Linked DNA regions of Homo sapiens: all the other regions are reported to be linked to region 1. The links are microRNA targets in miRTarBase. Many come from high-throughput screens and were not tested one by one. Region 1 holds a microRNA gene; each other region holds the end of a gene's coding sequence.

Region 1 (5,177 bases):
GCCATGTTGCTCAGGCTTGTCTTGAACTCCTGGGCTCAAGTGATTTTCCCACCCCGGCTTCCCAAAATGCTGGGATTACAGGGGTGAGCCACCATACCTGGCCGATATCTTTGTTTTGTGATACAGTTCTCTGATTATTAGTGAGGCTGGACTTTTAGATCTTAATTACTAGCTCTTATTTCCTTTTGTGAATTATTCAATTTGTGCCTGAATGTTATTTGTAAGTTGCAAATGTCGTTTGTTGCAGATATGCTCCCAGTAATATTTGTTGCCATTGAGTCTGAAGAAATGTTTGCAATTCCAAATATAACTGCTGTGTGGATACATGTCTGGTTCTTGGTAGCCATTTTGAGATAACATTTGTCTGACCTCTATCTTATTTTTGTTTTTATTTTTAGAGTGGAGGTCTTGCCCAGGCTGGTCTCGAACTCCTGGGCTCAAGCAATCTTTCTGCCTCCGCCTCCCAAAGTGCTGGGATTACAGGCATAAGCCACCTTACCCAGCCTTGTCTGACCTTTAAACAGAAATCCATTTCTTTTTATCTAAAAGGAAAGCACTTTTGAGTACTGTACAACAGTGGTGCTTCCTGGCTCTGGGCATGGGGAGAAGACAGGGCAACATTTTGTCCCTAATGAGAAACTAATTTAGACAAGAAACAAAACAGCGGTCCCTTCTCCCCCATCCATTCAGGGACTGGTCTTATTTTAAATATTTCTGAGTGGTCTGAGGGAGGATATGGGCAATATTGAAGTGTCCACATTTATACATACTGTTAAATGCTTTGGGGATGTGAAATGCTAATAGGAACACGCTAGCATGTGAGAAGGCACCAGGAGTGGGCTAATTGGCAGAAAGGAACAGTGTATAGGCAAGAGCAGTGAAATAACTTTAGGGGAAAATAGTATGTTAAGCTTATTAAATAACAGCCTCATAGAGACATTGGGTCCCAAAACAGTGATCTCAGTATAACTGTCAACAACTTGCTGATGTTATCAGCCCTATTTGCTGGTCAGAGACAAAAAAGCCAGTAAAAACCTAGGTATTATTAAGAAAGGTATGAGGCACAGAAAAATGCCATCTTATCTTTGTATAAAACCATCTGAACCAAATAACTATTACAGTAATAATCTTGCCTCAAGGAGTCTGTTACTATCACTCACATGATTTTGAAAAGGGAGTGGGCAGAGTGTGTTATCTCTCTGTTTCATTTTTCTTGTTTATAATACATAGGTGAATTAGATATTCTCAAAGGTCTTGGAGGGGTCTAATTCTGGTTTCCTGAAACTGAATGTTATTTCTAGTTTAGAGAATCTGTTTAATTATGTTTATTAAATAAACTTTTCTAACTTATTCCTACTCTGATCTGTATATTATCTATTTTGTATTTAATAACATTCTAACTTTTTTTTTCCAGTGAAGGATGAGGATTATTGGATTTAGAAGTGCCAAATGAGCTATTACTTACTGCTTTTTGCTATCCGGTTACACTGGGTTAATCCAGTTAGTTGTAAGCTCCCATTTTTCAGCATTTTGCTAGCTGTAGATATTAAACCAGGCTCATGTGGGTAGTAGGGTGGGGAGGTTAAGAGGAGTATAAGCAAAAAGGAAAAAAAAAAGCTCATATTTTAGAGGAGGGGATTGAGAAGTTCCTTTATTGGAAGTCTGTGCATGGAAGTCCCATTTTACATCATGCCAGTGTCTAGTTCCCAATTCCGTCTATGGCCACGGGTTAGGGAAAGCCTGAATATTTGAAATAACCGAAAAGCATTTAACCTTTGATTTCTATAATTTGTTCCTCACCTCTCTTGATGTTACAGCCAGCAGCAGCCTGGAGCAGCACCCCCTGGGAAGAAATTTTACATCGGCCATTATAATACAACCTGATAAGTGTTATAGCACTTATCAGATTGTATTGTAATTGTCTGTGTATATGCCTGTCTCTCTTCCTGTTATCAGTTAGACTGTGAGCTCCTTGAGGGCAAGGAAGGTGTCTTCATCTCCAGAGCCCAGCCTGGCACATTAGTAGGCCTCAGTAAATGTTTATTAGATGAATAAATGAATGACTCATCAGCAAACATTTATTGTGTGCCTGCTAAAGTGAGCTCCACAGGCTCTGGATTGTCAGCTGTTTCTTCAAAAAGCATGTGGTCAGAAATTTGATATTTCTGTATATATCTTCCTAAGAGTTTCTCATGAGACAATGCCATTTTTGTGTTTGGATTTCAGTCCTTGATATTTACAGATGTTGCAACTGTTGCTATTGCTGACACTTGCTTTCTTGGTGGGACTTGAGTGATAACTGTTAGATTGGGGCCTCATCCTCAGGGCCCAGGTAATCATCCAAATAGTATTCTTAGATAGGACTTTGCATTTTTCTTTCTTTTTTTTTTTTTTTTAAGGGACAGGTTCTCACTCTGTTGCCCAGGCTGGAGTGCAATGGTGCGAACACGGGTCACTGCAGCCTCGAACTCCTAGGCTCAGGTGATCTTCCACCTCAGCATTCTGAGTTAGGACTATAGGTGTGTGCCACCACCCCTGGCTAATGTTTGTATTTTTCGTAGAGAAGGGGTCTCGTTATGGTGCCCAGGCTGTTCTTGAACTCCTGGACTCAAGCGATCTACCTCCCTCAGCCTCCCAGAGTGCTGGGATTACAGGTGTGAGCCACTGCACCCAACCAGACTCCATATTCTAAACCAAGGGTGGGCAAACTTTATTGCCCATGGGCTACCTGTTTTTGTAAATACCATTCTATATTGGAACACAGCCATGTTCATTCATCGATGTTTTACCTGGGGCCGCTTTTGCGGCCCAGTGGCACAATTAAGTAGCTATTAGGTTGGTGCAAAAGTAGTTGCTGTTTTTGCCATTAAATATATTGGAGACATTGTGGCCCACAAAGCCTTTGTAGAAAAAGATCTGTGCCCACTCTGGATCATCACTCGACAGTGATGGTTTCATTTCTCATTCCATTCACCAGACCAGAAATTCATATTTATTTACTTCATTTGTCATTGCTTGTGACAAGTCTTTTTCCTCTTTTACAGATAAGCCAGCTAAGACATGTTTTAAAGTAGAAGATTATAAGACCTCCCCCAGGGTCCTGCAGTCAGTCAGTTATACCCTGCCCTTCAACATCAAGCTTTGAACCTCTACTCTAGAAATACCTTTTATTATATTCAAACTTGAAGCACGTGGACATAGCATGCTTTGGTGCCTTCGTCCTTGCCCCCCTCCTTCCTACACAGTTCTTTGCAATGAGAATATGGGAAATAAGGACTTAATGTGAGATAAGGCAGAAAGGTAAGCTGAGGCAAATGTTTAGAGGGTCCCTAACACTAATTTTTAAATGAAGAAGTGGGGTGTCTGAAATACTCATTTATTTAGATGTATACAGATAGTGAGCCTAGACTTCCAAGAGCTTAGAGCCCCTCCCCTTGTGCCTCCCCAACTTTACATGTACTATCTTGGTAACCTGCCTATGAATACATGTTGATTCATTTCACTTCATTAAAAAGTCGGAGAGCTCAAAGTCATATTTGAGAAAGCTAAATCTAAAACAAAATGGAGGAAACACTGAATAGGTTCATCTCGTTGGATAGGATCATCCTAGGAATAAAATATAATAGAAGGAAAGGTCTTACAGCCATATTTTTAAAGCTGCTTGCTGGATTTTTCCCAAAATTGTATTGTGAAAGTTGTCAAACATACATACAGAAAAGTTGAAAGAATTGTACGGTGAAAAGCCATGTACCCAACACCTAGATTTTATAATTAACATTTAACTATACAGTCATGTGTTGCTTAAAGACAGGATATGTTCTGAGTAATGGATCATTAAGTCATTTTGTTGTTGTGTGAACATCATAGGGGAGTGTACTTATACAAACCTAGATGGTATAGCTTACTACACACCTAGGCTATATGGTATAGCCTATTCCTCCTAGGCTACAAACCTGTACAGCATGTTGCTGTATTGAATACTGTAGGCATTTGGAATACAGTGGTAAGTATTTGTATATCCAAACATATCTAACATAGAAAAGGTACAGTAAAAACGTGGTGTTATTATCTTATGGGACCACCATTGTATATGCGCCTGTGACTGAAATGTTACTATAAGATTCAGGACTGTTTGTGTTATCACAGTAACTCATCTTTGTTGAATAGGTTTTAAAAATCTGTCTGTCTTCTGTGTTAATGTCATCTGTATCTGACCCATCATGGTGCTGAAAAAGCTTCTTTTCATTCTTATTTTTGTCTTCTAAGTCAGCATGAATACCAGCACAGCCCAACTATGTGTAAGCAGATCTGTGCAGGAATGAGAGTCCCAGGGAGAGAATCCACGTTGTTTCTGAAAGAAAATGGCTATAGCTCACTGTTGTTTACTGGAAATAGTAGGGGGAAGGAAAGATGGAAGTCCAGGTCCAGTGTCATATACTGCCCTGCACCTTACTCACTTCTCTGCCTTTAGGGTAGGTGGTTTTCTGAGCAGCTTCTGCTTGGTTCTCTCCTTTAAGGCTTGCTAAAGGAGAAACAACAATGTCATATTGAAATGCCAATGAGGCAATATTTAGCATTAGAATAACTTTGGAATTCTAGCAAATGGAATTTTAATTTGGGCTACTGTCTAATAGTATTCTTTGAGCCTTTTCTGTTAGCAACAGCTGCAGTTTCAATTAGGAAGCACCATGAAATTTTGTTTATCTTTATCCATGGACATGATAATGGTAAATGTTACCTGTTTGTGTCTCTCTCCTTTGATTTAAACTCAAGGGTAGAGATGTGTTTTACTGATCTTTGCAAATCTCTTACACTGTAAGATTTGTATTCATTTATAGGGATATACCCCCAAATATATGTTTAACATTATTTAAAAAAAGATTTAGATATGGGCATATTCACGGTGTTCATAACAGTAAATAATGGAAAAACTTACCTAGTCATGAATAGGAACTTGGTTAAATACATTTTGGTGTATTCATGTAATGGGACAGCATAGCCATTAAAAATAAAAATAGTCTTGAAGATAAATATTTGACTTGGAAAGAAGTATACAGTATATTAATTGAAAAAGGGCTAAAGGGCAATAGTATAGTTTCATCTAATCATTGTAAAATAAGAATTCATGTTTGTGTATGTACATGGAAGTTGTTGGATGAACATACCCCAAGTGTTAA
Region 2 (5,000 bases), not on the chromosome of region 1:
GGGAGAAGAAAAGCACAGACTGGTGAACATAAGTTACTGAAAAAGGGTTGACTGCATTCTATATCTGGCACAGGAAAAGAAAAATTCAAACAGCTGTGAAACCATTATATTTACACCACGATACTCTTACATGAACCTTGACTTTCCTACAGCAACAGTTTCATTCACAAAAAATACATAAAAGATTGGAAAGCTTTGGGGTAGCACCAGTGACAGCTAGCTGTCATTGAATAGTTTTAATTTTTTCCTAGAGGCAAAATTTAGAGAAAACTTAAAGAAGCAATTTATAGAAATGATTCTATTTCATGATTTTGCCTTTGTCAGCTGCTATGGAAATGGTGCAAGCAGAAATATAAATATCCATTCTGCATCAAGTAAGTTTCTATTTCTTTTTTCTCAAAGGGTAGAAATGGTACATCTCAATTTTTGTAAGGCTTCTGAGGATTAAGGGCAGCTCATCGCTCAGGACTTGACAATCTCTAAAGGAGCTCCTGGACTCTTTCACCACAAGGATAGATGGAGCCACTCCTATCCACAACTCATAGCAAGGATCTCTATGCATCTAGATTTTAATGCCAACGGTTTCTTGGCTTCCTGACTTGACATGCACCATGCACAAAGAGCAAGGTACTGACTGGTCTAAAGCCACTCTCCCCGGACACTGCTAACTCTAGCTAACCATCTCACAGACATCCTGCCTCTGATCATAAGATGGTCCCTGGAAGGAAGCATAAACACTTCCCAAATACTAGAACAGACAGCCCAAAGTGCAAGTTCTACTAATGGGAGAGTAAATGAATCACCTCTGTGTACAGAGAATGGCACAGGAAATTGTTATGAGTATAAAACCATATCTCCCCTTTCTTAATCACTTGTTATTATCTAACAAAGGTAGATACTTTTGAGAAGACCTCACCAACTACATAAGTATGTCCTATAAATTGTCTTGAAAACATATTCCCATGTTTAAAGATTACTTTGAAGAACCAAAGTTGAATGTTCAAAAATAAAAACTATTCTTACCAAGTTTCCCAAGCCCAAATCCCTGGAGAATTCTAGAAACCAGTTTTGTTGGTTTCTAGTATTTCAGTATTCAGTATTTCAGCTGCATCGAGCCCCCCTCAGGTGAGCTAGTGGGAGTTCCCCGACTCTATCATTATGTTCCTCATTTTCTTTCCTTCTCCTGAGGAAGTCTTCAGTTATTTCCATAGCAACTTGTGATAATGTCCTAAATGATCACATTTTTTGAATAGCACATATATTATTGGGACCTACTTTTTCTTTCTTTTAAACAATATCTTCGATAATAAAGAAAAGGGGACCGGGCGGGATAGCTCACGCCTGTAATCCCAGCACTTTGGGAGGCTGAGGCAGGTGGATCACCCAAGGTCAGGAGTTCAAGACCAGCCTGGCTAACACGGTAAAACCCCTTCTCTACTAAAAATACAAAAAATGAGTCAGCCATGGTGGCTGACCCAGCTACTCAGGAGGCTAAGGCAGGAGAATCGCTTGAACCTGGGAGGCAGAAGTTGCAGGGAGCTGAGATCGCGCCACTGCACTGCCTAGGCAACAAGAGAGAAATTGTCTCAAAAAAAAGAGAGAAAGAAAAGGGAGTAATCTTTAAAAATGAACTTCTGTTAAAAAGTAATTATCATGCTTTATACAAAACAGCACATTTACTAATTTACTAGATAGAATTCATTCCAGAACCACTGTCCAGACCAAACAAACAAATGGGAACATAGAGCACATAAAATAGATCATACACAGTTTAAACATAATTTTCATAGCCAGAATTGTCATGTTGGGCAAAAAATGGTAAATCAATCCTTATACGGCTATATGAAAATTATAGGTAAACATAAAAACAGGCATATGTTTAAGTCAGGTTAGATTTAACTAGGCACTGGAATGAATGAAAACTGATTATATTCCGTTGGATTCCAAATTTCTACCTTATTGGGAAAGTAGAGTACATCATTCTAGCCGAGGGATGAGAGGGCAGGCAGATGAGGATAGCCACACAGGTATACGCAGTGTTGCCTGATGATTAAACCTGACAACTATTTTGGGAACTGAGATTTCAGATACACTATTTAGAATTTAGACTGGCAGCTTCCAAAGATTACTGTTCACTTGAGTTTGTAAACTGGAACCTCTATAAACTTTAGTGCACCTGATCTGGCTCTAGAGTACACTTTACAATGCATTTAAAAATAAAAACAAACAAACAACAAACTTCCACAGATTGCCCTTTCGGGATGTGTCATTTTTAGATGCTCATTCTCCATTTGGTGCTACCATATAAACCCCTTGAAAAGTTCAGGGGATTCTTTCTGATAATGATCAGAAAAGGGTGAGGCCTGGGATATAGCGGGAGCAGCAAAAAAAAAGTTACTCTCCTCTTACTGAAGATACTCTTCTGAGAACTTCCATTGTCCCTTAGGAGGAAGGAATGGAATATGGAAGTTCCAGAAGATACTGCTGCCTTCCGAAGATAGTTACAACAGGATCATAACTATGAACCCTAAGATTACTTTTTTTTTTTTTCCTTTTTTTGAGACAGAGTCTTGCTCTGTCGCCCAGGCTGGAGTACAGTGGTGCAATCTTGGCTCACTGCAAGCTCCGCCTCCCGGGTTCACCCCATTCTCCTGCCTCAGCCACCCACGTAGCTGGGACTACAGGCGCCCGCCACCACGCCCGGCTAATTTTTGTATTTTTAGTAGAGACAGGGTTTCACCGTGTTAGCCAGGATGGTCTTGATCTCCTGACCTTGTGATCCACCCGCCTCAGCCTCCCAAAGTGCTGGGATTACAGGCGTGAGCCACCGTGCCTGGCTGAGATTACTTTTTTATGTAGCACCTGCCTTGCTTCTGTGTCTTATAAAGACACAGAATTCTTACAAAGCTATGAAACAGAGTCAGGAAAAATTACTCATGGCACTTAAAGATGTTTAGAGACTGTAAAATGCCTTCATTTTTTTTTTCTCAATGCCCCTGTGAGGTAGGTGTCTGTGGGGAAAAAGCTGAGGCACGGAGGGGTTAAGTCTGCTCACCTTTTCATTGCATGATGAGCCAGTGGTCCAGCTAGCAGGACCAGGTGTCCCAGCTCCCTAAACTTTATTCACCCTGCTTCTCAGAAGGCTTATTTATGTTACACAACAAATACAGCAGGGGAAAGTTTTCTTTTCATACATTTTAACTAGTTGGCTATTTCTTATTCTCACCTTGAACATAAGTTATCTCAGATAAAACCAAATAAAAACAAAACAAAAAAATCAATATTGCCTAACAGTCTGTGTCAAATGCAGCCTATTCTGCACTAGTGATTGAAAAAGCACAGAATATGATTCAAGTAGAAGTATTTGTGGGTGCTATGGTGTTCCTGTTGACTCAAGCCAGGCTGTGAGTAAAGTGTCGCTTTAGACACTACCCACTGTACTTTGTAAGAACTTCTTTGGCCTGACACAAGGGAATAAATCTACCACCCCTGTTTCATGGTGAAACCATATTCTGAAAGATATTCTACACATGCTGGCCCTGCCTGGAAAGGGGACTCTCAGCCGTGTGATGTGTATTACCGAGTTCATGCACAACTCTTTGAAGCTGGACATGAAGGTCACAGTCTCCTGACATAAAGCTCACAGGACAGTTCACACTACGGACAGAGGGGCAATACCACAGGGTACATGCACTAGCACCATGCCACAGAAGTCAAAGAGAAGGACAAGAAGCCACCACACAAGCATCTTAGAGTCCCATCTGGTATGCCATTTGCAGAGGCTACCTCTGGTAAGGGGAAGACTGAAGAGGTCCTGTACTCCTTTCCATAATAAGAAGAAGGATCAAAACAGAGCACTCATTGCTGGCTGCTTTGAGCATACCGCCTATCCAAATTTCACCCCTACATAAGTTGGTAACTTTCCTTGTAGATATTCAAAGATAATATATGTCATTTCTTCATCAAGAGAGAATCATGTCAGGCAAAATTCAAAAGTTAGTTACAAGACGTGGATGCAGGGCTCCAAGGCAATTTACACCACTACTCTTGGAATCGAATTCATGAGTACTCAGGGCACTAGCTTTTAGACATGCAATACTTCTTTTTGAGACTTTTCTTTCCCCTATAGTATCTAAAATGTAAATTCCACTCATATCATGACCCCTAAGTCTAATGGAAGATCAGATATTTGGTTTCAGGGTCTGAAGTAAATCACAATACCAAATCAGATGCATGTATCTATGAATGCTTTTTGCCTTGATATTAATGCAAACGCCTGCCCTCCCAAGGCCTGTCCTCCCCTTGAGCTCATCTTCCAGGGGGCTGAGCCTGCTCCGTCCTCTGCATATGCAGGACCAGAGGGAATCATTCCAACTCAGAGTTTCACTGGGATACTAGGATACAGCATAGCAGCAATTCATGCACTTTATTTCTAAAAACCAAAGCTCAGGCTGAGCTGGTCACTGTGCAAGATGAACCAGCAGGACATTCTCGCCTCGAATGAAAATCTGATTTATGTGTCGAGTGAATACCTGCTGGTAATCCACTTTGGGCTTTCGCTTTTTCTTACGGGACTGGCCTCTGGAAAGGGTGGTAGCCCTGGAAAAGGTACCTCCCACACTGGAGCCGTCTGTCCGTGTAGTCCTCCCTGACAGCTCTGACCTGGACTCCTCCCTTGCAGAGGCCTGCAGGGAAGAAGGGACAGAGCGGGAACGCTTGTGTGAGCCCCGGCCAGTGTCTGCTCTTCCCCACACTGAAGCCAACTTCCAAGTGGATGTCTGTGAGTATCTAGACAGAGTGGAATCTTCAACTGCAGACTTAGAATCTGCTTCCTTCTTGGAGGAATCTTGAAGTTTCAGCCGATCAAATAGCTATAAAGCAAACAATGATAAATATTAGCCTTCTCTTTAGCCTTCATCACCCTCTTTCAACATACAGAAAAAGACCAAATTCTTTAATTATGTTCTGTGGACTCCTTGCTTTGCAATTTTTTAAAAGTT
Region 3 (5,000 bases), not on the chromosome of region 1:
AGAAAGTAGAAGGAAGGGGGTTAAGCCCACAAAGGGCACATGACAGTTGTCTGTTCCTCCTAGTAGCAGCTTGCCCAGAACTGAACTCCCAGCCAACCACCCACAGCTCAAGAGAGGCCGGGGTTTACTCTTCCAGCGGGTCCCATTGCCACTGGAGTAGAGGGGGAGAATCCTGGATACTGGTGGGCAACCAGCACTCTCTGCCACAGGACCCTAACACTGTTACTACCTGAAGGCCCCATGTCCAGGGAGAAGCGGAAATCAAGACGGATGATTACTGAAGCAAAGAATGGGGTAGAGAATGTGGTCAAAAGCAGAGAGGGAGGGAGGGGACTTGGAAACAGGCACATCTTCACTTGAGACTGACAGCCACCTGTCTCTAAGGTTATATCTGTGAGTAATAGCTGGTTTCTGTAAGCAGGACAAAAGCACTTTCTTTTTTTTTTTTTGGAGACAAAATTTCACTCTTGTTGCCCAGGCTGGAGTGCAGTGGCGCAATCTTGGCTCGCTGCAATCTCCACCTCCCAGGTTCAAGCACTTCTCCTGCCTCAGCCTCCCAAGTAGCTGGAATTATAGGGCGCTACCATGCCCAGCTAATTTTTGTATTTAGTAGAGATGGGGTTTCACCATGTTGGTCAGGCTGGCCTGGAACTCCTGACCTCAGGTGATCCACCCACCTCGGCCTCCCAAGGTGCTGGGATTACAGGTGTGAGTCACTGTACCCGGCCCCTTTCATGGGAGCATGTTTCTCACGCAGGCGCTGCAGTCACAACACTTGTTGCCTGCCATACCTGAAAGGTAGTTGGTCAAGATTTGGGATTATAGGCTGGGCGCGGTGGCTCACACCTGTAGTCCCAGCACTTTGGGAGGCCGAGACTGGTGGATCACGAGGTCAGGAGATCAAGACCATCCTGGCTAACACGGTGAAACCCCATCTCTACTAAAAATACAACAACAACAAAAAAATTAGTGGGGCGTGGTGGAGGGCGCCTGTAGTCCCAGCTACTCGGAAGGCTGAGGCAGGAGAATGGTGTGAACCCAGGAGGCGGAGTTTGCAGTGAGCCAAGATCACGCCACTGCACTCCAGCCTGGGCAACAGAGCAAGACTCCGTCTCAAAAAAAAAAAAATATATATATATATATATATATATATTTGGGATTATATAAGAAGGTTGAGTTTAAAGCTGGAGGTAATAAATGCCAAAAAAAAAAAAAAAAAAACTTTTGGCCCTCCCTGATGACAGAGGGACACCCTTCTAAATTGCCCTTCCATCTCTCTCATAGATGCCTTTCATAGCCAGCAGAACTGTTTTTTTTTTTTGTTGTTTTTTTTTTTTTTGAGACAGAGTCTCACTCTGGCACCTAGGCTGGAGTGTGCAGTGGTGTGCTTGGCTCACTGCAACCTCCACCTCCCGGGTTTAAGTGATTCTCCTGCCTCAGCCTCCCAAGTAGCTGGGATTACAGGCGTTGTGCCACCATGCCCTGCTAATTTTTTGTATTTTTAGTAGAGTTGGGGTTTCACCATGTTGGCCAGGCTGGTCTCAAACTCCTATCCTCAGGTGATCTGCCCCTCTTGGCCCCCCAAAGTGCTGGGATTACAGGCATCAGCCACCTCGCCCAGCCCAGCGCAACTTTCTGAAGTCCTTCTGAACCACCAGGAAGCGGCTCAGCTGTAGGTCTCTGCAGAAGCAATGACTCAGGGCGTGAGAAGGTGAAGTTAGGTGTGCAATGAAGGAGGTGTATGTCATCTATCCACATCCTTTCTCTCCTCCACAAAAGAAGGAAGTATTTGATTATACAATCCTATCAATTTCACTATTCCCAATCATTTATTATCCCAATTTTCTGGAACCATTTCCCACCAATCACTTAAGAAAGGGCTACCCCAGCCGGGCACAGTGGCTCACAACTGTAATCCCAGCACTTTGGAAGGCTGAGGCGGGTGGATCGCTTGAGCCCAGGAGTTTGAGACCAGGCAGGCAACATGGTGAAACTCTGTCTCAACATAAAATACAAAAAAAAAAAAAAAAAAAAAATTAGCCTGGTATGGTGGTGCTCACCTGTAGTCCCAGCTACTCAGGAGGATGAGGTGGGAGAATCGCTTGAACTTGGGAAGTTGAGGCTGCAGTGAGATGAGATCATGCCACTGCATTCCAGCCTGGGCAACTGGAGACCCTGTCTCAAAAAAAAAAAAAAAAAAGTGGGGGCGGGGGGGTGGCTACCTAGCACCGGCTTAACCTTTCCCCACAACCCTTCCCTCCAAGCACAGAAGACAGCTTCCAGGTGTCCTTGTGTCCCCCACTGGTCACTGCTGTGTTCCTGCTGTGGAACTGGGGGAACTCAGTGCTTAAGCACCAAGTCTTACACCTCTGTCGTATCACTAATGTGCCAAAGGAATTAGAAAGAAGATAATAGTATTACAGGGAAGTCTCCGAGAATTAATCAGGGCTCATTTGCCAATGCCACAGGCACCTGAGCTTTTGCTGTGCTCGAACTAAATGCCTTCATCTGGTGTGCAGACAAAATTATGAGGTGCAGTTTTCACACTTTGATTGAAGTGGCACAGCTAATAATTTAGAATTAGATCCTGTGTGGGCTTCATAGTGGACTCAAGCTCTTATCTGTCACTGTGGACGCTGCCCCCTGTTCATGCACCACCTTTTTTTCTTTGTAAATGTGCACATTAAGGCTCTCAGGCACATGCAGAATTGAACTTTCCACCTTTGCTCTTCCCTCAAGATCTCATGTCAGCTACCAAGACCAAAATCTAAGAAGGTAGCTCTCCTACAAACCCCACGGAACCAGCATCCAAGTAAGAGGACTGACCAAATTTGTTCCAACCCTGCAATTCCATGAAACACTTTCAAAGTACACCACCAGGGAATATGTTATTGGCAGTGCTGGCTCTAGTGTATGTGGGCGGGGTGCAGTGACTCACACCTGTAATCCCAACATTTTGGGAGTCGAAGATGGCAGGATTACTTGAGCCCAGGAGCTCAAGACCAGCCTGGGTAACACAGGGAGACTCCATCTCTATTTAAAAAAAAAAAAAAAAAAAAGGAGGGGGTGGAATCCAAATATCTAAGACAGATACTTCTGATAAAATGGGTCCAAGTTGCTTGTCATTCTTTGAATTAAAGCAAAAATAAATTTTACAACATAATCTAAAAGAAATCCATGCTGATTCTTATTTCAGATTCAAACCAGCACTAAGTAATACATCATTCAACACAAATATCAGAAAATAATATTTCCTAATTGTTCAGTATCAATGTTTGTTAAGTGAGAAATACAGGATCTGGCTCACAAAACATCTTGATACGTTGTTTTTTCATGTCATATGGGTAATGTGCCAACAGCCTAACGATATTTGAGGGGGGCACATCTCACATACGTGATCGTACTTATGAACCACAAAATGAGTTTATTAACAGTTTATTTATGTGTATGCTTATATATTTCCATAAATTTAATGTCTTCTTATAGTAATCAAAATTAGTTAACAGGCCAGGCATGGTAGCTCACACCTGTAATCTCAAAACTTTGTGAAGCCGAGGCGGGTGGATCAGGAGTTTTGAGGTTGGGAGTTCGAGACCAGCCCGGCCAACATGATGAAACTCCGTCTCTGCTAAAAGTACAAAAATTAGATGGGCGTGATGGTGCACGTCTGTAATCCCAGCTCCTCAGGAGGCTGAGGCAGGAGAATTGCTTGAACCCGGGAGGTGGAGGTTGCAGTGAGCTGAGATTGTGCCACTGCACTCCAGCCTCAGCAACACAGAAAAGCTCCATCTCAAAAAAAAAAAAAAATTAGTTAACAGTCTGAGATAAACTATTTTAACAAGAAAACACATTTAACCAAATATGGCAGTAAACTGGAAACTTTCAGTTATTGCTTCAATAAGGGAATGTTTCACAAAAATTGTCTGTTTCTTCAATACTAACATTCTTTTGTCCTAGAGACCATTCCTGTAGTTTAATAATCTCACTGCTCTCTTTATAAAATAAAAATAAACAATGTATCTATAAGGCTTAGTCTGCAATTTTCCACTGTATAATTTATTCACATTTAAAACTGTATTTCTTTTTATAGTTATATGTCAAAAAATAGTGACTAGGTTTTATGGCTTACTTAAAATATAAATGAGGAAAACAGACATTTGCCATACAAATGGCTGGTTTTAATTTTTTTTAGAGGAAATACTATAATTTAAAAAAAAAAAGAGTTCCAAAATATTTAACAGAATCTCCAGCAATGATTATTTCCAAAATGTAAAGATTTGAAACATAATTTATACAAAACTAAAAACCACAAGGATTCATTCTTGCTTTTTCCTTTTTTAAAAAATCCAGACAATTTGTCACAAGAAAGTTCGGCATGTGATAGAAGCTGTAGCCTCAGTCACCCTCGGAATCGCTGTCCCTCTTCATGAGGACAGAGCGCCGCACTGAGGACAGCAACACGTCTTCAATCGGCTTCTTAGGGTTTTCCTCCAGGTCTGTCATAATTGCTCCAGATTCAGACAGTTTCCATTCCAACTCTATATGGTAAAGAAAAAGCAAATTGCCTAAGGCACTGTGCTGCAAAGGTTCCCTCGCCCTAAGTCCATCAACCTAGTTTTTTCTAAGTAGAAAATACAATTATCGAAATTTGGCCCAGCACAATGGCTCACGCCTGTAATCCCAACACTTTGGGAGGCTGAGGCAGGAGGATCACCTGAGCCTGGGAGGTAGAGGTTGCAGACATTTAAGATCACACCACTGCACTCCAGCCTGGGCAGCAGTGAGACTGTCTCAACAATAAAAATAAAAGTAAATAAAACATAAAAATTCACTGGGTACAGTGGTGGTGTGTGCTTATAATCCCAGCTGTTTGGGAGGCTGAAGTGGCAGGATCGCTTGAGCCCAGGAGTTCAAGGCTGCAGTGAACCATGATCATGTCACTGCACTCCAGCCTACACGACAGAGCGAGACCCTGTCTCAAAAATACAAAGAATAAACCT
Region 4 (5,000 bases), not on the chromosome of region 1:
GCCCAGGAGTTCTAGATCAGCCTGAGAAACATGATGAAACTCCATGTATACAAAAAGTGCAAAAATTAGCCAGGCATGATGGTGCACGCCTGAAGTCCCAGCTACTTGGGAGGCTGAGGTGGGAGGATCACTTGAGCCCAGGAAGTCAGGGCTGCAGTGAACCATGATCACGTCACTGCATTCCAGCCTGGGTGACAGAGCGAGACCCTTTCTTTTTCCCAAAGAAAAAGTGGATTGTCAGAGTTCTAGTCTATGAAAAAGCATCTATTTGCCTCACCTAAATTTAACCCTTTTGTAGCTTTTTATTCAAAGTGGAATAATATAGAATGCTATATAGACTATAACAAATATGCCCTTAATATACTCCATTCTATTTAATAATAGGAACTTCTTTTCTTTTATTTCAAGATACAAAATAACTTACAGAAGTTGCTTGAGAATGGTGACTGATCGACCAGATTGCTTGGGCCATCGGAATACCTCATGTTTCCCTTTGAAGAAGGTGCTTCCTGAGGCGTTTTGTTTGAGTGCACCCTGCTGGTCAGAGGTGCAAGCAGATGAGAATCCAGACATTGCATGTGGAGGTCTCCAGCTCAGGAAAGTGAGGAGGGAAATAATTTTGGTTCTTGTGCAATAAAAGTTGACCTTGACTCTCTGAGGAAGATTTTGCTGCTTTTGCCTGAAGAAAACAGACCCATCTCTGGAGGTCTCAGGAAGGGCCCAGCGAACACACTCTCTTGGATAATTACCACGATGGCGTCAGCAAACACTCCACCCTGTGCCTTTTTAGTCCTTCCCGCCCTCCTGCCTCTCCCTTACACCCCTCTTAACGACTTTCAAACTAAAGGATACATCATATACTGACAAACTCAATGTGGTCCTTTCAAGAATTAGCCATGAGTCTCAAAAAGGCAATAAATGGCTCTAAGTGGACAGGTTTGCTTCAAACAAGTAACATCTACATTTTGTCTTTTTTTTTTCAGTTCTCCTGTTATGTTCTGGTTGAAATCACCTGTGTGTCTTAATTTCTCAATTCCTTTTTGGCAAGAATATCAAGCAAGGTGAATTTAACATTATGTTTATGTTTTGTTTTGTTGCTGTAACTAATAGTTAATTGGACTGATTCTTACCCAGCCCTGGTCAAGAATCTGTGAGGCATGTGACTGAAGTACTAAATTAAACTTATTTTGAAACCAAACCTAATTTTTAAGCCAAAAGGTGTAATAGTGATTTAATACAGGATGAAAAACACTGAATTTTTAAGACTGTAGGTGGACTATGTTAGTAGTTTTCAAGCAGGATGTCTGTATTCAGCATTCAATAATGCTAAAATCCCTTTCAGCATGAAATTTGTATGTTTTTATCCTTTGCTGACTAAAATAAAATAACTGGTGGTTTGCTAACTATTTACCATATGGGTTGGCTGGTTTTTATTAATAATTGTTTAGGGTATCATAAGATCTGTAAGTACAAAGGATATTCTGTTTCTATCTGCAATGCATTTGATAATCATTTCTATGAAATGTATTTTATTTAATCAGATAAGCTAATAAGCGAATTGGTTACATCGTTTGTATCTGTTGGCCTAGTGGACAGCTGTGCCTGGTGCACCTCTGGCTTTTAATAAATACTCATTGGTTGAAACACCCTGCTAACACTGTGTTTTGTCAGTTCGTAAATTCCTTTAACCAAGACTTAACTATGCTTTTTAACTCTTTTTCCACCTGCCATCTACTACTACCAACTCACTTATACTTCCTTCCTCCCAAGTAATCATTTCAAAACTAAAAAAGGATTTAAGTTCTTGGGTTACAACGGTTTAAAGGAAAGAAAATGAACTTTGAAGTCAAAAAAAAAAGAAAAAAAAAAAAGACAATGCTTCATTCCTCAGTCCACATTTATGAGTTATGTGACCTTTAGCAAAATATTTGGCCATATCCCCCCATTTTATTGATGAGGTTGAAAGTACCAGTAAAAAGTATCAGTGTGAGGATTAAATGTGATAATGTCAGCCAGGTGCAGTGGCTCATGCCTATAATCCCAGCATTCTCGGAGGCCAAGGCAGGAGGACTGCTTGAGCTCAGGAGGTTGTGATCAGCCTGGACAACGCAGCAAGATCCCATTTCTACTAAAAATAAAAATAAATTAGCCAGGTGTGGTGATGCATGCCTATAGTCCCAGCTACTCAGGAGAATTGCTGAAGTCTGGGAGACTGAGGCTGCAGTGAGCCACGATCACACCATTGCACCCTAGCCTGAGTGACAAAGCAAGACCTTGTCTCAGTCAATCAATCAGTCAATGTGATGATGTCTCTAAAGCACATAGCCATGTCAGGCAAGTAGTATGCTTTCATAACAGCTACAATAGTCATTATTTTAAAAAATATTTTTGCACACCTGTAGTACCAGCTACTTGGGAGGCCGAGGCAGGAGAATCACTTGAACCCAGGAGGTGGAGGTTGCAGTGAGCCCAGATCATGCCACTGCCGCTCCAGCCTGGGCGACAGAGCGAGACTCTGTCTCAAAAAAAAAAAAAATTTATGTCTGACATTACAGTTTTATTAAAGTTCAGTGTCAGCACTTTCTATTCAAAACCCATTAGTGATTCAAGAGTGGGTCAGCCACCTCTGGAGAACAACTTTATAACCATATCAAGAGCTTTAAAAAGCCTCAGATTTCACTCAGTTTTAGTAATCTGCCATCTAGGAATTTATCCTAAAGCAACAATCAGAAGTATAGTAAAGTTTATATACAAGAATATTCTTTGAAACCTCTGACAGCAAAATATTAGAGAGTCTAAATATTCAATAGAAGAACAGTTAAATGATGCAGTTATTTAAAATTGCATTGTCAAAGAAAGGCATAGAAAATATCGAAAATTGCATTAAAAGACATAAAACTATAGGGTATGATCCCAACTTTAAGAAGAAAACCCTCAATGTGTGTGTGTATATATATATATATATATATTTATATGTATATGCATACATACATACACACAGAAGCCCACACACCTTTTCTGTATCCTACAGGTTTTGTATAATGAAGTCGTTACCTTTTTTTAATCAGATAAGTTAATTTACAAGATTAGGTGGCTCTCTGCAAGGAATCAGAACTCACAACTCCCACCCCCCACAACATGGCTGCTAGTTCTTTAACTGAAACTTTATTTTCCATCAACCACTACAGTTGACTCATCCAGAGCGAAAGACAGCTCCACCATTCCTAGGTTTAGTTATTGTTTCTTTGCGGATACTATTGTTTGTTTGGTTTTCCTTTACTAGCTTCCAAGTGAAAATCTGGTGCAGCTAGATCCGAATGGTGAAATCCAGGTTATAAGCCTGCATACTAACTACAAAGCGAGGGAAAGCAAGCATCTGGGATTTTTACGCCTCTACCAACTAGGTTATAAATGGGAATTCTAACATGGGGTTTCAGATGCTGAATGGCCAAAGTAATAGCAAATGTCCACAATATATTTGGCCCTTCAAAACGTGTAATCTTAAAAAGATTATCAGTTGTAATACTATTTCTATGCACTCTAATATTTTATAATATAATTAAATACATACTATTTTGGTGAATAGAAATTACCAATCTTCCATAAGCTGGAAATGCTATTATTATTATTGTTGCCCTCTCAAACTTTGTAAACATTTAAGATACCTTCCTATATATACTCCACAATACTCCAAAGCATTTCCCAGGTATTCATTTATGCAATTCCTTGAAACCAACCAAGATACTTTTTTTTTTTTTTCAGATAGGGTCTCACTCTATCATCGCCCAGGCTGGAGTACAGTGGCGCAATCTCGGCTCACTGGAACCTCTACCTCCCAACCTATCCTCTCGCCTCAGCCTCCCAAGTAGCTGGGACTACAGGTGCACACCACCACACCCAGCTAATTTTTTGTATTTTTAGTAGAGACAGGTTTTTCCATGTTGCCCAGGCTGGTGTTGAACTCCTGGGCTCAAACAATCCACCTACAAATGTGAGCCACCTCGCCCAGCCCAGAGACATTTTTTAAATGCCTTTTCCTTGCCTTACACAATTTCATAAATTCATGGAGTCAGGCCAAAACAAAAATTCTGACTTAAATATGAGTTATCTTTTATGCTATTTTGATTTGTATATCCTAACAATAGTAAAATTCAGGTGATGCTTTCTTATTTTTTTGTTTCTGGTGATCTAAAGGATATGGACACTAATGCATTATGGATAGCTCAGGTGATTTTACTCTCAAGCATTTTTTTAAGTCAAAATTCTACACATCAGTAATAGTTATACTGCCATTTGAGGTCATAACCTGACCCACTGACAAAGAAGCCCAGTGATATAATATTATTTTCATATGCTTCTTTTACACCTCTCCCTGCTAATTACCATCATGTTACCATATTCTTGCCAAAAAAAAAAAAAAAAAACACCAGAGTCGTTACATGAAGTATCTTTGATCACTGAATTTCCAGCACTTCTTTGTTGTGTCTAGATGCTAAGCCCTTTTCTAATTTGAAAAAAAAAAAACAAAAAACTGGAGACCTGATTCTGTTTATCTCTTGTAGTTTCTCTTATCTCTGTTTCTAACCACTCTATGTAGTGCCTCTTTTTTTCTGTCTACACACACACGGAGCATCCACCATACCAATAATCACAGTATGTGGTAATGAAAAGTGGAAGGGAAAAATGGCCCTTGCTTCTCACAGACAAACTCACTATCTCAATGGATCATTTTTGTTTTTTTGTTTTGTTTTGTTTTTGAGACAGTCTCACTCTGTTGCGCAGGCTGGAGTGCAGTAGTGCAATCTTAGCTCACTACAACCTCTGCCCCCGGGTTCAAGCAATTCTCCTGCCTCAGCCTCCTGAGTAGCTGGGATTACGGCACCTGCCACCATGCCCTGCTAATTTTTGTTTTTTTAGTAGAGATGGGGTTTCACCATGTTGGCCAGGCTGGTCTCGAACTCCTGACCTCAAGTGATCTGCCCGCCTCGGCCTCCCAAAGT

Evidence for each region. The annotated mature microRNA hsa-miR-545-3p reads UCAGCAAACAUUUAUUGUGUGC and lies in region 1 at 2,068-2,089, shown strand. An mRNA with a match to its seed (bases 2 to 7 or 8) in the 3' UTR can be bound and repressed. Matches are read on the target gene's strand: a 7mer-m8 pairs with bases 2 to 8, a 7mer-A1 pairs with bases 2 to 7 and ends in A, and an 8mer does both.
Region 2: miRTarBase lists LSM11 as a target of hsa-miR-545-3p. Seed matches in the 3' UTR shown: 7mer-m8 at 2,381-2,387.
Region 3: the mRNA of PDCL3 is a reported target of hsa-miR-545-3p. The part of its 3' UTR that is shown has no 7-base or 8-base seed match.
Region 4: the mRNA of GRAMD2B is a reported target of hsa-miR-545-3p. Seed matches in the 3' UTR shown: 7mer-m8 at 666-672 and 8mer at 1,367-1,374.

The regions. Positions count from the first base shown.
Region 1 is chrX:74,284,038-74,289,214 of GRCh38, reverse strand. MIR545 (microRNA 545) reads left to right here and starts at 2,006; the gene lies at 2,006-2,111. The region is part of intron 1 of FTX (FTX transcript, XIST regulator); the gene reads left to right. MIR374A (microRNA 374a) reads left to right here and starts at 1,858; the gene lies at 1,858-1,929. LOC124905199 (a long non-coding RNA gene) reads left to right here. Exons shown (of 2, transcript XR_007068266.1): 2 at 1-1,350. RefSeq lists an enhancer at 4,896-5,177.
Region 2 is chr5:157,754,725-157,759,724 of GRCh38, reverse strand. It overlaps LSM11 (LSM11, U7 small nuclear RNA associated), which reads right to left. Exons shown (of 4, transcript NM_173491.4): 4 at 1-4,871. The coding sequence ends at 4,461. Among named protein-coding and RNA genes, the nearest start is that of LSM11, 14 kb to the right of the region's middle.
Region 3 is chr2:100,575,892-100,580,891 of GRCh38, reverse strand. PDCL3 (phosducin like 3) reads right to left here. Exons shown (of 6, transcript NM_024065.5): 6 at 4,153-4,538. The coding sequence ends at 4,396. It also overlaps the pseudogene LOC124906187. Among named protein-coding and RNA genes, the nearest start is that of PDCL3, 15 kb to the right of the region's middle.
Region 4 is chr5:126,492,507-126,497,506 of GRCh38, forward strand. It overlaps GRAMD2B (GRAM domain containing 2B), which reads left to right. Exons shown (of 14, transcript NM_023927.4): 14 at 409-1,858. The coding sequence ends at 450. Among named protein-coding and RNA genes, the nearest start is that of GRAMD2B, 72 kb to the left of the region's middle. RefSeq lists an enhancer at 236-791.